Linked DNA regions of Homo sapiens. The protein of the gene in region 1 purifies or fractionates together with the protein of each later gene. This does not show direct contact. Each region holds a gene or a part of one and is shown in the gene's direction. Other genes may lie near its edges.

What was found. Proteins that work in one complex are often made in the same cells at the same time.
Region 2: the proteins of ATF6B (region 1) and PPP1R9A purify together in Homo sapiens (affinity purification with mass spectrometry; 2 studies listed by BioGRID and IntAct, with this or other methods). This does not show direct contact.

Annotation. Positions count from the first base shown.
Region 1 is NC_000006.12:32,114,764-32,118,281, reverse strand, and holds the end of ATF6B (cyclic AMP-dependent transcription factor ATF-6 beta), read left to right. Parts: intron 1-243; coding exon 244-423; intron 424-587; coding exon 588-695; intron 696-877; coding exon 878-959; intron 960-1,174; coding exon 1,175-1,245; intron 1,246-1,466; coding exon 1,467-1,578; intron 1,579-1,717; coding exon 1,718-1,802; intron 1,803-2,313; coding exon 2,314-2,543; 3' UTR 2,544-3,018; downstream 3,019-3,518.
Region 2 is NC_000007.14:94,903,517-94,910,609, forward strand, and holds the start of PPP1R9A (neurabin-1), read left to right. Parts: upstream 1-4,077; 5' UTR 4,078-4,186; intron 4,187-4,436; exon of another isoform or gene 4,437-4,623; intron 4,624-4,728; exon of another isoform or gene 4,729-5,078; intron 5,079-6,381; 5' UTR 6,382-6,597; coding exon 6,598-7,093. UniProt on the Homo sapiens protein: Binds to actin filaments (F-actin) and shows cross-linking activity. Binds along the sides of the F-actin. May be involved in neurite formation. Inhibits protein phosphatase 1-alpha activity.

The DNA of each region.
Region 1 (3,518 bases):
TAGATGATGGTGATAATGCTGGTAGAAATAGTGACTATTAAGTGCTTACTGAGTTCTAGGCTCTAGGTGATGCACTGTCTTTTTTGTATGTAGGGACCATCCTTATTCCCATCTTACAGAGGCAGACTCAGGCTTGTATAACAGATTGCAACTCAAGCAGTCCATCTGCAGAGTCTTTATTCTTACCTAGATACTTGATACAGCTGAAATTCTTCATTGTGCTCAGTCCTTCTTTATCCACAGCATCAGTGAGCCTCCTTCAGCTCCCATCTCTCCTCGGATGAACAAGGGGGAGCCTCAACCCCGGAGACACTTGCTGGGGTTCTCAGAGCAAGAGCCAGTTCAGGGAGTTGAACCTCTCCAGGGGTCCTCCCAGGGCCCTAAGGAGCCCCAGCCCAGCCCCACAGACCAGCCCAGTTTCAGGTGAGGAGAGAGAGAGAGGGCCCCCTCTCGTTTGAGGGTATGAGTTGGTCTTCTCCCCGCTTTCAGTGAGGGGGACCCAAAGCTTTCTCTTGCCGTCATCGCCTTCTTTGTTGTGGGAGTGCTGGGCAGTCTCCAAGTGTTGTCTCCTTCCTGCTTCACTCCAGCAACCTGACAGCCTTCCCTGGGGGCGCCAAGGAGCTACTACTAAGAGACCTAGACCAGCTCTTCCTCTCCTCTGATTGCCGGCACTTCAACCGCACTGAGTCCCTGAGGTGTGGGATTCATTGCTGGGGCATCCAGCTCCCCCGGCCTCCCAAGGCCTTCTGCAGTCAGCCTGGCTGGCCTGTGTACTAAAGCGCCAGTGCTCCCTGCCCTCTCCTCACTCCTGTGGGTGGGCAAGGAGGGTGGGAATCTTGGCCTGGCATGGAGGTCCTGAGCTCCTCCATTTCCCCAGGCTTGCTGACGAGTTGAGTGGCTGGGTCCAGCGCCACCAGAGAGGCCGGAGGAAGATCCCTCAGAGGGCCCAGGAGAGACAGGTAGGGCGGGTGGCTGGTTCAAGGAAGGCCACTTGAAGACAAGGGCTAAAGGCCTTGTCTGGGGATTTCTAGTGGGCATCTCGCTGTGGAAGTTTGAGGGATCGTTTGAAGGAAGTGGAGGGTTGAGTGGGAGGTGGCATCAGCTTCCAGGGGCTGTTTGTCTCTTTCCCTTTTCCCTTCACCCTCTCCAAGTCCTTAGATACTTCTCCTTCCAGAAGTCTCAGCCACGGAAGAAGTCACCTCCAGTTAAGGCAGTCCCCATCCAACCCCCTGGACCCCCAGAAAGGTGAGTGTGGGGTGGGGTGCTTACTTATTAAGTGAAATTCCACTTTCAAGAGCTGTACCCCCAGTAGCTGTCCTGTGCCTGTCATTACTGTCACCAGTGGGATTATACCTCCCTCCTCCACTGGGGGTCTCCTGTCTTTTTCTCTCATCCTACCCGCTTCCCTGGTAGAAACTGAGCATTGGGCTTAGTTCCCCTCAAATCCTGTTTCCCCACCTGCCTAGGGATTCTGTGGGCCAGCTGCAACTATATCGCCACCCAGACCGTTCGCAGCCAGCATTCTTGGATGCAATTGACCGACGGGAAGACACATTTTATGTTGTCTCTTTCCGAAGGGTGAGTTTCTCCTGCCCTTCCATCTCTGTCACCCCAGGTTCCCAGCAGTCTGTCTTCAGTGGGGGGATGTAGAGTAGGGCTGGGGAGCTTGTTGGCATCTTTGCCTCCACCCTTCTGGCCTGGCCCATCTGTTCCCCAGGACCACCTGCTGCTCCCAGCCATCAGCCACAACAAGACCTCCCGGCCCAAGATGTCCCTGGTGATGCCTGCCATGGCCCCCAATGGTAACTCTTTCCCTGCTGGGTATGGGGGCAGTTCCAACAGGGAGATCCAGCCTGGGAGCTGAGGGGGAAGGGGGAGAGGAGCAGGGCATCCAGAGAGCTGCTGGACCCACAGGTGAGAAGCAGCAGGAAGTAGGTGGAGGGAAGAGCACCATGCAGGAGACTTGGGAGGGAGACAAGGGTGAGGGTCCTTCCCTGGTGAAGGTGCTTGGGTAGATGACTGGGCAGAGGCGGGGGGCCGGGAACCTGCTAGACTCTCACTTACTTTTTTCTCTTGATGTCCTCTCCTGTGTGACCCCACACTCAATGCCCTTTTCTTTTCCTACCCTCTCCTTGCCCCTGCACCAAACTCTGTCCCTGCCATCCTGTTTAACTCCCGCTATGGATCTGCCTCCTCACTATTGCCCTTTCTTTTTCTCTCTGCTCACCTCTACTTTTCTGACCTCCTCCCCTCCTCCCTGCAATCCCTGTTTGCCTCCCCATCTCCTCTTCCTTAACTCTCCCCTTCTCACAGAGACCCTGTCAGGCCGTGGGGCCCCGGGGGACTATGAGGAGATGATGCAGATCGAGTGTGAGGTCATGGACACCAGGGTGATTCACATCAAGACCTCCACAGTGCCCCCCTCGCTCCGAAAACAGCCATCCCCAACCCCAGGCAATGCCACAGGTGGCCCCTTGCCAGTCTCTGCAGCCAGCCAGGCCCACCAGGCCTCCCACCAGCCCCTCTACCTCAATCATCCCTGACCTCTGCCATTCACACTGACTTAGAACGGGGGGAGGGGGTACCAGGTGGCCAGGTGGGACTGTTTCAAATTTCCCTGATCCCCAGGCTTGGGGCAATTGGTAAAGGAAAGAGCAGGTGTGGGGGTTAAGCACTTATTTGAGGTGGGGGTGTTCACCTCTCTTCTCATCCCTTTTCAGAATATAGGGCTCCTCTCATTCCTGTGAACCCCCAGTCCTGGCTTCTTTGTTTGAGGGGATTGTGTGAGGTTCAGTTGTGGGGTGGGTGGTGAGCTGCTGCATATTTTTTATTTTGTTTCTCTAGTGTTATGGCAGTGGAGGTGGGAATTTAGTCCCCAGGTGGGACAAGGGAAGTTTTTTCATTTTGGAGCTAGTTACTGGGAGTAAGGGAGGGTGGGGTGGGGGGGAGTTCAGGTTTATGTGTGTGCATTTCTTTTTTATTATTATTAAATAAACAACTTGGAGGGAGTTGAAGGAATGGTGGCTGCCTTCCTGGCTCGTGATGGGGAGTTTGGGGGAAAGTGGCTTTTCCAGAGCCAGCATCAAAGAATCAAGCACTGAAGACATAGCTGGCTCTGAGGTGGGGTGGGTGCGGGATCACAGACCGCATGTCATCCCCTTGCCCCCACCCCTGCAACTCTGGGGTATATCTGTGTCTAGCAACGATGTCTCATGGCGTGACAGACTAGAGGATACGCATCCCTGGAATGTGAGTCAACAGGAAAGATGGGGCCCCACGCCCTTCAGGGTGAGCAGCCTCTGGGTCTCCTGCTCTCGAGCAGGTTCTCCCCCTCTTCTTGCTGTCCAGGATGAGCAGCTCAAACAAACAACAAGAGCTGGGGCCAGAGGCTCAGAGCCCAGGAAGTGGGGGTCTCGGTGAAGAAGGGGTGATATTTGGAAGGGAAGGGGGATGTGGCAGGATATCCTCTAAGCCCTAAACTGGAGGGGACTGAGACTTGAGAGTCCAGATGAAAGACA
Region 2 (7,093 bases), on another chromosome or scaffold:
AACTTTATTTGAAACAATGCGTTAAAGTAATGGTAATAAATTACTATGCTGGATGAACATGGATTATGGCTGTTTAAGAACCTATGAAAAATGTACTAGTAACTTCAGAGCAAATTTATCATTGAATTATTTCCAAAAGCTGATGACTGCATACACAAATTAAATATTACGATGTTCTTAAAATGCATTCTGTTATAATGTAAATTTTGTATAAAATGGGACTATTGTGGACCTCACCAAGAAGGTTTATTACTAGAACTAGATTGAAAATGGAAATAAAGTCACAGAAATCTCCTGTTTAATTGTAGACAAACATGGATGCTTATTTATTTACTTTAATAGTTAATTCACCAAGGCTAATGCTATGGAATAGAGCTACTTCAAAATAATATGGAACAGAGCCTACTTCGAAATAATAGATTATGAATAAATTATTCTGAAGTAAGATCAGCAACATGCCAATTTGAGTTCAGGTGCAACTTGTAGGTGGAGGATTTGCAGACAGAAAACCACAACTAGAGTCCTGCTAGAGGGGCTAATCTGTTGAAAGAAAAATGAGCTTCTGTAGAAACAAATAAATGCCTCATACTTGTCTTTAAAAGTGTAACATGCACCACTACAAAACTGAAAACTAATGGTTATAGCAGCTGTTGTTTCAACCTCAGAAGCTGTGACAGCAATGAAAACATTATACCAATGTCTGGTCCAATAAAACTCTTGGTTTCCTGTGTTTTGTGTGGGTGGACAAAGTAATAATAGCAAAGAAAGAGAAGTTGTATCACTTTAGCCTAAACACACTGTGTAAATTTGTTGTTGTTTATTTGTAGAGATAAGATATTAGTAACTTAAAAATGACCTAAAGGAATCCCGAAGAGTTCTACAGTTCATTACTCATGGCAAGTAAAACTAAATACTCAACCTTATGAACTTTTAAAGCTGAAAATCCAAGATACTTGTAGAATGGGAAATGGACAGAGATGATGGTTTAAATTTTCAGTGGCATGTCCAAGCCATGAGTGTAGGTAGAAAGCCATGCTGAATCATTATCAATTTATTGGGGTAGAAATGACACCTTTAATGTTAATTTTATAGCTAACATCACAAAATAAGACTGATCATAGATATCTTTGAATCTGAATGTGAGCCTGAGGACTATTTTAGAGAAGTATATTCTACCTCTATGATGGAGTTTGTGTGAAATATTATAAGACTCAAAAGTAAACTTAAACTTTTATCCTCAAATACAGATATTTATTTTAAAGAGACCTTTAAGAAAATTGAATATCAACATTCAAGACTGAAGTCAACAAAGCATTCTGTGATACTTACAAATGTGAAATAAGTAGTTATAATTAAACTTTTAATTAAAAAGCTGCCTCGTCACTATCAAAACATTATGCATATCGGTAAGAAAACAGTGGTATGAATAACATGTCCTTTTACGCTACAATTATGTGTAAAATTACCTACTGAAATTGCTCTCCCATTACTTTGCCTTCTCCATAAAGAAGTTAAGTCTAGAGACCTTTTAGTTTGTTCTGGTCTTTTCTCTCCCTTCAGGAACTTCCATTAGTACACAACCAGCTAGGTATCTTCCTGTTAGAAATGAAAGTGTGATGGGCAGTCTTTAGTACCAGCTTAGCCAGTTTTCCCTAGTCTTAAAATTTGATTCAGGCTTAGTTTGGGCTTAATTTCACAGCTGCACCCAATGATTCACATACACACATGAATAACTTAATTCTTTGAATAGTTCTTAGAATGTCCATCACGAAAACTTAAAAATACATTGAGAAAACCCCTAAAACAATATAGAATATACTTTGTACTTTTTGTTTATCCTCTAACCTTGTGACCACATGGTTAATACTAATCATGGTATTATTGGTTGCAAAGGAAATGAAAATAACAGCCCACAATATTCTATATAATTTATGAAAGGTTAAGGTATCATATATGAAAACTGAGAACTCCCCCACCCCAAACACATTTTGGATTTTTTGCATGTCAGTAATGAAGTTCACTTTTCACCACCTTTCCAGTTGGAACATATAAAATGTATGACCTCTAATGCCTAATACATTAATGATCTATTGAACTAAGTTAACCCTTATAAAGTTCATAGAAGTGAAAATGTGGTCTAGAACAACACTGTTTGATAGAACTTTCTGTGATGGAAATGTTGCGTATCTACACTGTGCAACAGAGTGGCCACTAGGCACATGTAGCCATCAAGCCTTTCAAATGCGGCTTGTGTGACTAAGGAACTGAATTTTAAATTGTATTTAATTTTAATTAAAGTTAAATAGCCGCATGTATTGGATTAGCAGTCTAATAGACCCTTCAAACATTCAAGTAAGTGTTGGAAATGGAAGGTCCATTATAGGAAATCTAGGAATCTTAAATTCTCACCATCGGGTTTAAAACTCTATCATTCCTTCAGTATGAACTTTTCCAGAAGTTTCAGATTTTCAAAAGATAAAACTCAAACCAACCAAATCCTTTAGGGTGCTTTTCTGTATGAATCATCTTTCTGCAAAGAGGTGTAAGACTGTCTTTATTGCCAACTCTGCCCCCTCTTCTACAGACAGAACTCAGTGATTAGATTCTGCATTTATTTAGGTTATTCGCCTAAAAAACCTGGTTTCCATACTGCAAATAAATGACAGGAACTTTTCCACTAGATTATCCCAGACAGCAGAAATGTTCTTTCCAAAAGTGGAGCCTGGAACCACAGCCCCCTCACATTGCCTGTTACATCTGTTTATGCTTATAGAAGTGACATCCACTTCGTAGACAGAGAATGCCAATTTCTTGGGAAAGGACCCAGAATTTGGTGATGCTTAAAGGAAAAAAAAGCCCTTGCTGCTTAAAATTAAAAAATACATAGAACTGAGTATTGAGTAGTTACAAAATCCTTCTGAAATGAAAAGATTTTGCTCCCAGAGTATATAGAATTTGTGTACGGACTTGCCTGGGTTCATATTCAGCCATAATCATTTACTATTAATAGCCAATAAAGAAGCGGGTAAGTTACAAAACCTAAACCTTAGTTTTTCCATCAGTGAAATGGGGCTAAAAATAGTTATGTTGGGAAAACTTGTGAAAGACTTTGAAATGAGCAAAAGATTACTGTTTGTCCTTTCAATGGAATGCTGGATGTTATCTACAGGACTCCGGAGTGTTGTGAAATTTACAGTCGTCTGCACCTTACTTAGACTGACTTTCACTAGGCTATTTTACTACTCAGTAAGCTGTAGAAACGTTTGGTAATGTAAATGAGTTTTATCTACAGAATGCAAATTTGTTACTTTACAGATACAACTGGTTACCGCCCTGTAAAGCAGATAATAATAAACATTACATTTCAGTGCTCTATAGAATAGTAAGCAGATTTGCCTCTTCTTGCCTCTATGTCTACTCTTCACAGTCTCACGTGAATGGGTTGCAGTATCTTGCTGGGGTTCCCTTCCTAATTAAAAGAGTTATAAAAATTTTGACCAATGTTCATTTTATATTTCTACCATTGTCATGTTTTTACCTTCTTGAAAAATTATTTTTTAAGAGTTCCTGCTCCCTAGGCTTTTTGGAAGGATTGGTTTAAACATCTGTATTGACAGTCATGATCAGTTTTATATCTTGCAGGAAGGTGGTAACACTTCCGGTACTTGGGGGTGTAAGAGGTTGTACTGAGCCTTTAGAAAAGGGCGGGGTTCGGGGGGGAGTGAGCTGAAAAACTCTCCCTAGACAGGAAAGGTAGAAGACCTCCTCATCCCTTTCTCTTTGGCAGTGAGATCTTAAGGTCAAGGTGAGTAGTAGGCCAGGCGCAGTGGCTTAGGTGAAGGCCACACCAGACTTGGGCCTACGTCTTGGCCTTCCAGGTCAGCAGAGTGGCCTGGGACTTGGATGCCTTGGGGTCACGGAGTTAACTGCAGACTCAGACTAAGTGGGGCCCCAGCAGCGGTCAGCCCCAGAACCAAGTTCCGGAGCCAACACCCGAACAGGAAGGGGCCTTGCCCCAGGCCGGAGAGGCCCCTCGCCCACGGCCGAGGGGGTGGGGCGGCCTCGCCTCGGGCCGGTGCTTTTCGCCCTTCCTTGGCCGCCAGAGGCTCCCTCTCTCTCCCTCTCCCGGGATTTTGCTGCCGGGCTCCCTCTCTCTGCGGCCCTAGAGTTAATCCCATCAGCCGAGGTGAGGCACCTGTTACCCCGGCCTTCCTCACCCCCGCGGCCTCTCCTCCATTACACCGCGGCCGCCGAAACGGCCCGGCGTGGCGACCGCACGTGGGCCAAACCCCTTCCCCGGCCGGCACCCCTGGCCCCAGGCCGGCCCGAGCGTGCGGGCGCGTCGCTGCTCGGGCCGCCGCCCGCCCGCAATGGCGTTGGGGAGCGCAGCGCGCCTCCCGGGGCCGCCCGCCGCGGGCAGGGAGCGCCTGGGGGCCGACGCGCGAGTGGAAGCGGCCGCCGCAGCCGCCCTACGCGCTGCGCCGTGAGGAGCGGGTTGCGGTGTACCCAGCGGGCCGGCGCCGAGCCGAGCCGCCGCGTCCACCGTGGGGCGGGGGGCGCCTGCGAGGAGGGGGTGGGAGCCGCGGCGGCCCGACCCTCCCCGCCCGCGGCGCTCCCGCTCGGGTAAGGGGGAGGCTGAGCGCGGGGCGAGGAGTTGGGGAGGGTGGAGAGGAGGAAAAAATCGGCTTGTACAAAGGCTGAGTTGCAGGCTGGGGGTGGGGGTGGGTTGTGGTGGAGGAGCAATAGGTTGAAGATCGGAGGCATTATCAGTGGGATCTATTGTTTCCTGGCACATTGGGAGGAAAAACAAAGGGATTTATTTTCATTACCCTGTAATTTTTTTTCTTTTCTATTTTTTTAAATGTGGCCAGGGAGCTCGTCTCTCTCCGTGTCACAGTGGGATCCGCCTGGCAGCCGCCGGGAGCTGCAGCCAATGTGTTAGGACTTCAGGTGCTTCTTGGCACAAAGCTAGACTGCGACCTCCTACCATAGCGCTTGGCGTCACCTGCTCTCCCGGTCCTGCCCCAGGGCCGAGGGATTGCGTCCCGAACCGGGCTTGGGAATCGGCTGCCTCTCAAGTTGGTGTTATTTATGTTTGTCTTTTGTGAGGGCAGGTTTTGAATCCCCCGGCGGCCCCATCTCCCCCGCCCCCGCCTCCTTGGGTTGGAATTGGCGGGGGAGGGAATGGGGGGTGTGTGTAGGGGAGAGGGGAGGGTGTTTGTGGCTTTAAAAAGAATGGTCAGGGTAAAAGGAGATTGTCGATGCTTTACAAAAAAAGAAAAAAACAGGCACCACACTCCAAAGCCTTTCTTGTTTGTCTGCATGGGCCATGCATGCGTGCTGGGCCAGGAGCCGAGTTTGGAGACGGTTTAAGTGAAAGTGTGTGCCTCCTCAGCTGATTGTGCGTGAGGGTGATGTGGCTCGGTCTAATATCAAAACAAAACAAAAATAAAATGAAAAATCTTTAGAACTGCCTGCATTGTCTGCTCCTCAGCATATCTTGAAGTATTTGATTGCTGGCTTATTGATATAAAATCCTGCTGTGGGCTTAAAGAGACCAGCAAGCATGCATTGCGTTGCGTGTTGAACTGTAGTAAGTTAGAGGCAAGAAAGAATAAACAAATCAGGGCTGTGAAAAGGGGTGTCACAGTATATTTGCTTTCTGATTGTCACATTCTTACGCATTTATTCCCTTGGTAGTCTGCATCCCACTCCATAATTAATAATAACCACTGTTAGGAAACTTCCAAATACTTGTTATAACTGAACTTAGTGAAACTTATTGCTATTCAGGAACTTTTTTTCTCCTTGTTTTGATCTGAAATTGCATTAGTATTGCTTTGGGGATGCTGTAGATGAGAACATTGGACCAAAAAAAGTAAAATATGCCGCTGTAGGCATGTTTTGGAGTTTGTAAACATAGATTCCAAACTTAATTGTACTTAGAAAGAATAAGTTCTACCTAATTGTGGAGAATCCTAAATGAAGTTGATTTTCTGGACAGTTTGATGATTTCTTAAAGATCGATGAACTGCTGGTTTCTTTTTAAAGGGCATTCACAAAAGCGACCAAAACTTGGGCTAAAGTATTGCTTTCAAATATACTTATGTGTAGCTTGTATTTGTGAGTGTGTGTATGTGTTTGTGTGTGTGTGAGATTTTGATAGGTATCTCCAAATTGTGTTTGGAACTTTTTTTTTTTTTTTTTTACCAAAGACCAATCAGAATGATAACTTTTTGACTTTTAACTTCCCATTTCAATGAGTAATCTCTTCTGTTTGCCACGTGGCTAAGCCATTTGGAAAAAAAAATGTATGTTATTTGACTAGACATAAATTCAAATAAGTAAATGAATTCAGAAATTCATTCTTTTCTATTGCAGATGAACCTCTAGTCTTGCTTTGAAAAAATCATTCTGTGTAACTCTTGACTGTGACTAAGTTCCTAATACACCTGTTGGGACGATCACTGACACCGTATACCATTTGAGAGGTACTTTTCTTGACCCAATACTGGTGATTAGAGAAGAGAGGTATCTTGGTTTTTGGTTTTTTTCTTTGATCATTATGAACATTGGCTTTTCACCCCTGAAGTGAAAATGTTGAAAACTGAGTCTTCAGGTGAACGAACCACTCTCAGAAGTGCCTCTCCTCACAGGAATGCATATCGAACTGAGTTTCAGGCACTGAAAAGTACCTTTGACAAACCCAAGTCAGATGGGGAACAAAAAACAAAAGAAGGTGAGGGCTCCCAGCAGAGCAGGGGGAGGAAATATGGCTCCAATGTCAACAGAATTAAAAACCTATTTATGCAGATGGGTATGGAACCCAACGAGAATGCTGCAGTCATTGCCAAAACAAGGGGGAAAGGTGGACATTCATCTCCTCAGAGAAGAATGAAGCCCAAAGAATTTCTGGAAAAAACAGATGGCTCAGTTGTTAAGTTGGAGTCTTCTGTTTCTGAACGAATTAGTAGATTTGACACTATGTACGATGGCCCTTCATATTCCAAGTTCACTGAGACTCGAAAGATGTTTGAGAGAAGTGTGCATGAATCAGGACAGAACAACCGCTATTCCCCAAAGAAAGAGAAAG